Homo sapiens: one gene and its partner. The protein of the gene in region 1 purifies or fractionates together with the protein of each later gene. This does not show direct contact. Each region holds a gene or a part of one and is shown on either strand. Other genes may lie near its edges.

What was found.
Region 2: the proteins of FIZ1 (region 1) and ZCRB1 purify together in Homo sapiens (co-immunoprecipitation; one large-scale study listed by IntAct). This does not show direct contact.

The regions. Positions count from the first base shown.
Region 1 is NC_000019.10:55,593,527-55,596,678, reverse strand, and holds part of FIZ1 (flt3-interacting zinc finger protein 1), read left to right. Parts: exon of another isoform or gene 1-783; coding exon of another isoform or gene 784-1,059; intron 1,060-3,032; coding exon 3,033-3,152. UniProt on the Homo sapiens protein: May be a transcriptional repressor of NRL function in photoreceptors. Does not repress CRX-mediated transactivation.
Region 2 is NC_000012.12:42,313,710-42,316,294, forward strand, and holds part of ZCRB1 (zinc finger CCHC-type and RNA-binding motif-containing protein 1), read right to left. Parts: intron 278-2,585; coding exon 165-277; intron 57-164; coding exon 1-56.

The DNA of each region.
Region 1 (3,152 bases):
CAAACAAAAAATACAAATCAATGTGTGAGAGTAAAGAGAGGAGAGCTATGGGCTACTTCAGACAGGTGGGGAAGGTTAGGGCAGGTGATACCTGAGCCAACCTGCAGTGTGAGGAATCCTCCCTGGGAAGAGCATTCCAGGCAGCAGGAACAGCAAGTGCAAAGGCCCTGAGGAAGGAAGGAGTGTGCTGTGTTCCAGGAAGCGATGGGAGACTGTGGGGTTGGGGTGGAAGGAGGTAAGGTGAAAGATGGGACGGGCTAGGTCACACTCTGTCTATGTGCCAGACACTTGCACAACCAGGGTGAAGAAAACCAGGCATCTACCGATGGTCTTTCACACTTGGCTGTCCTCTCTGTCCCCATGCATCTGCCTTGGTTCAGGACTTCACATCCTGAATGTTGGCCCCGGCTTTCTCAGTGGTCTCCCTCCTTCCTGTCTCTCTCCCTCACATCCAGTCTCTGCATCTATCACAGAGTGACCAGGTGACCCCTGCTTAAATCCCTTGATCCTTAGGATGAAAGGGGAGCTCCTTAGCTTGATGCAACAATTGACAGTCCCCTGAGGGGCCTCACCCCCACCCACCAGTAGGTTGTGATTCAACTGAACCATTTCAGGAGCACCTACTGTATTTAGATACAGTGCTAGGCTCTCTGGGGGAAAAAAAATAGCTAAGGGAACAAAACAGATACAGTCCACCCTTTGTATGGCCTCGAGTCAAATGTGGGAGATGTGAACTGAACAACTAGGTTAATCAATGTTAGGCTGCAGCCGAGACATCTGAGGATGGAGGATAACCATATTCTGAGGCTAATGCAAGAGAGAGCTGAAGCAGTCTGGATCGGGGATGGGGTCAGGGATGGTTTTCCCGAGAAAAAGGTGAGGAATGATCTGCCTCTGGGGTCCGAGGCTTTCCGGATCCAGGGAACAAAATGTGTACTTTCAAGGAAGCAAAGCAGGCTTTGGAGGAACTGGAGGAAGGCCAATGTGACTGGAGCATGGAGAAGCAGAAAGTGTGGCTCAGGAGAAGTCTGGAGAGTGCCGGACCCTGGAAATACAGCTGTGAGCAAAACCAATGTGGTCACTATTTTTATCGTCCTTAGCTGGTGGGGAGACAGACAACACTCAAGTTATATGTAGACACTAAGTGTGCTATGAGCCATAGGCTTTAAAGAAGGAGGGTGGAAGAGGATCACTGATGAGCCAGGGGGCCAGATTCCGGGAAGGGTTTCCAAGGAGCTGACAGATAAATAGACCTACGGGCATTCCAGGCAGTGAGAACAGCATGTACAAGGGCCCTGGGACCAGCATAATCTTGTTGTGTTAAAAGAGTAGAGAGAGAATAAATTTAGTGACAAAGAGGATAGAGATCCCTACACCCACACTGTACAGCAGGTGCATCGAGTCTGGAGCCAGAAAGGCAAATGAACATCACTCCCTGTTCCTTCTTCAGATCTGTGCCCCTGGCAGACATTACTAATCAAGCACTGCACTCTTTCTCATCCAGCCTCACCCTTCTCCTCACAGGCCTCCAGGAAGACATTACCATACTCACAAATCTCTCTCTGTTATTCCAAAATCTTAAATCAACAAGGACAAATATCAATACAAAAAACCTCTCTAAGGCACGGTTTTACACAGTCTACAAGCCTGGCAATGCCTCAGAAAAAAATACAGATTCCTGGACTCCCTCCTGGGAGATTCGATTCCCTAGACTTGGAAGTGATTCCCTGGATCTGTATGTGTGAAAAGCGTTCAGTGGGAGAAACTCTGAGCAGTAGCCGGATTCGGTTCAAAATCACTTCTCTGCCCTAACACACCTAAGGCCTGTATTCAGCTCATGATAACTGGCTCGGGATAGCAGGGCTTGACAAGGGAGAAGACACACCCTGCTAGGGCTGGCTGCTGTGTCACTTTAGAGCTGCACTGTCCAGTATAGCCATTAGCCACCGATAGTGATTTCTTTTTTTTTTTTTTTTTTTTTTGAGACAGAGTCTCGCTCTGTCGCCCAGACTGGAGTGCAGTGGCGCGATCTCGGCTCACTGCAAGCTCCGCCTCCCGGGTTCATGCCATTCTCCCGCCTCAGCCTCCTGAGTAGCTGGGACTACAGGCGCCCGCCACCACGCCCGGCTAATTTTTTGAATTTTTAGTAGAGACGGGGTTTCACCGTGTTAGCCAGGATGGTCTCGATCTCCTGACCTCATGATCCGCCCGCCTCGGCCTCCCAAAGTGCTAGGATTACAGGCGTGAGCCACCGCACCCGGGCTTTTTTTTTTTTTTTTTGAGACAGAGTCTCGCTCTGTCACCCAGGCTAGAGTGCAGTGGCACGTCTTTGGCTCACTGCATCCTCCACCTCCCGGGTTCAAGTGATTCTTCTACCTCAGCCTCCTGAGTGGCTGGGACTACAGGTCCCTGGGACTACCCGCCACCAGGCCCGGGTAATTTTTGTATTTTTAGTAAAGGCAGGGTTTCACCATGTTGATCAGGTTGGTCTCGAACTCTTGACCTCAAATGATCCACCCACTTCAGCCTCCCAAAGTGCTGGGATTACACACGTGAGCCACCGCACCCAGTCGTGTTTTTTTGTTTTTTTTGAGACACAGTCTCACCCTGTCATGCAGGCTGTAATGTGGTGGCATGGTCACGGCTTACTGCAGCCTCAAACTTCTTGGCTCAGCCTCCCAGGTAGCTGGGACCACAGGAGTGTGCCGTGTCCAGCTAGTTTTTAAAATTATTTGTAGAGACAAGGTTTCCCTGTGTTGCCTGGGCTGGTCTCAAACACCTAGGCTTATGCAATCCCAGAGTGCTGGGATTACAGGCGTGAGCCACCATGGCCAGCCAGGACATGGCCTTTTTAAGGACCGAAAGAATCTACCGTGACCCCAAACAGAGAGTGATAGGACGAGCGTTTCCCTAGATCATGGCCCTGTAGGTGTGACAGAGAGCTTGTGCCACAACCCTCTGGGAGTCCAGGAATCCGTTGTCCGGGCTAGGTTCTCAGCCCTGACGTTGTGCCCTTCCTCCCGCACCCCTAGGTCGTCCACACTGGTGAGAAACCCTACTGCTGCCTGGTCTGCGAGCTCCGCTTCTCCTCACGCTCCAGCCTGGGCCGCCACCTCAAGCGCCAGCACCGTGGGGTTCTCCCCTCTCCCCTG
Region 2 (2,585 bases), on another chromosome or scaffold:
TGAGGCTGTCAAGAGCAGGATCCTCCCCTTCATCTTCACTTTCTTCTACTTCCTCACTTAAATAAAGAAAAACAAATTGGAATGTAACCAACCAATAATCAAAAGCAACCAACCAAAAGACAAAAGCAACATGATGATGTATTTAGTAAGAATAATATACATACATTTCTTCTTCTGGTTCAGGAGCTTTCTTTTTTTTCTTTTTTTCTTTCTTCTTTGGAGGCTCACGTTCTCCGAGCATATTTTTCGGACAGGCATAACTTAAGTGTCCACTTTCCTTTTGTTTCCCATTAAAAAGGAAAGGAAAAATACCATATTTGATGTTATTTATAAAAACTTGCCTGGTACCTTATTACTAAAAAGTTTTCAAATTTAAAAAGGAATATTCCCATACTGGGACTATACAGAAGACATTAATGATAAAACCCAGTACTTTAATATTTAGAAGGTGATATTATAACTCTCAGTTATTTTAACATTTAGGACTATTTAGTAGTTTTACTAAGAGTAGTGGTAGTAGTCTTCTTTCAAACATTTAAATCTCAAAATTCAAGATATAAAACAGTTTGGTCGGGCGCGGTGGCTCACGCCTGTAATCCTAGCACTTTGGGAAGCCGAGGTGGGTGGATCACCTGAGGTCTGGAGTTTGAGACCAGACTAACCAAAATGGTGAAATCCCGTCTCTACTAAAAAAAAAAAAAAAAAAAAAAAAAAAAAAAAAATTAGTTGGGCATAAGTGGCACACACCTGTAGTCCCAGCTACTCAGGAGGCTGAGGTAGGAGAATTGCTTAAACCCAGGAGGTGGAGGTTGCAGTGAGCTGAGATCATTCCGTTGCACTCCAGCCTGGGTGACAAGAGCAAAACTCCGTCTCAAAAAAAAAAAATCAAAATTTAAATGGATCATTTACCCTAAATGTAAACATCTTAAGTTATTGATAAAACGAGGATAAAACTATTCCTGTTAATTTCCAAGATGTTGCTTAATACTCTGTTGGGCTGGGCAGGCTGAGGCAGGTGGGTCACCTTAGGAAGTGAGTTCAAGACCCGCCTGGCCAACATGGGGAAACCCTGTCTCTACTAAATATACAAAAATTAGCTGGGCTTGGTGGCATATGCCTGTAATCCCAGCTACTCAGGAGACTGAGGCACAAGAATTGATCGAACGCGGGAGGCAGAGACTGCAGTGAGCTGAGATTGTGCCACCGCACTCCAGCCTAGGCAACAGAGCAAGACCCTGTCTCAAAAAACAAACAAAAAACCAAAAAACAAATGGAAAATTTCTTCCTCACTTTTCCTATGAATTACTTCCGTTTTTTCCCTTTTATATCCTGACTACACTTGCACTATCCAATTACAGTAGTCACTAGCCAGCCAATGTGGCTACTGAGAACTTGTCTGAATTGATACGTACTGTAAAGGTAAAATACACATTGGATTTCTGAAGACTTAGTAACATACGTGGCTTGCATTATATTCTCATTTGACAATGCTGGACTAGGCTATTATTCCTACTTAGCTAGAACATTGATTTGTAAAACATAAGAGCTCAACTATAATCTGGACATCAGCTCACTACAATTCCATTTAAGAGGTTATGTCAGGGTAGGGTGTGGGGACTGAGCCAAGGTTAGAACAATAGAAGGGAACAATAATCATGCTTTTCCAGTATATTTGACAGAGCAGACAGACTGTGCACTTTGTATACCTAGGACATAGCCCAACTTAAAGAGGTTACTTACTGTTAATGAGCTGCTGAGAAAATAGAGACACATATCTGAAACTGTTTTGGAATAATATTATAGCAAAAAAAAATTAACATATCCCATACTAAAAAAGGATTTAATGAAATAACTTGAGAAAAACCAGGCTAGGTCAATATAAAAAAGTTTTTTTTGGAGGGAGGGAAATTAAATATAAAAATGTAAAAAATATAACAACTCTATGGATCCATAAACCAAAAGGAACCGATTAACAGATTCATCTAGGATTTCTCAGATAATTTAATATTTACTGTGAATATGAAGATATATACTAATCTGAATATAACTACCTTCCCTCCCTCCCTTTCTTTCTTTTACAAAACTCAAAACTTTGGAAAAGTTTCTAAAGTGTTTACTTAAGAGGTTTTAGAATCATAGGAATTGACAGAATCAGTATGTATCCAAGCAACTGCTTGCTCACTCTTTCTATTCATCCATCCATCAGTCTGTTTATTTAGTTATCTTTTTTGTCGGGGGTATGGGGAGTGACAGTGGGGTAGAGGACCTCAAGCCATTTCCTTGCATCTTCCATGTGATTTTGTAGCCAGGACGGTATCTTTCAGTGATTCTCTCCCCAGTTCCCCATTACTACCTCTGGACTCTGTTTTTTAAGTATTTTATTTTATGTTTATTTTTATTTTTGAGACAGAGTCTCCCTCTGTTGCCCAGGCTGGAGTGCAGTGGAGTAATCTCGGCTCACTGCAACCTCCACCTCCTGGGTTCAAGCGAGTCTCCTGCCTCAGCCTTCCAAGTAGCTGGGATTACAGGCACCTGCCACCATGCCTGGCTAATTTTTTTTTTGTATTTTTAGTAGAAACTCAGTT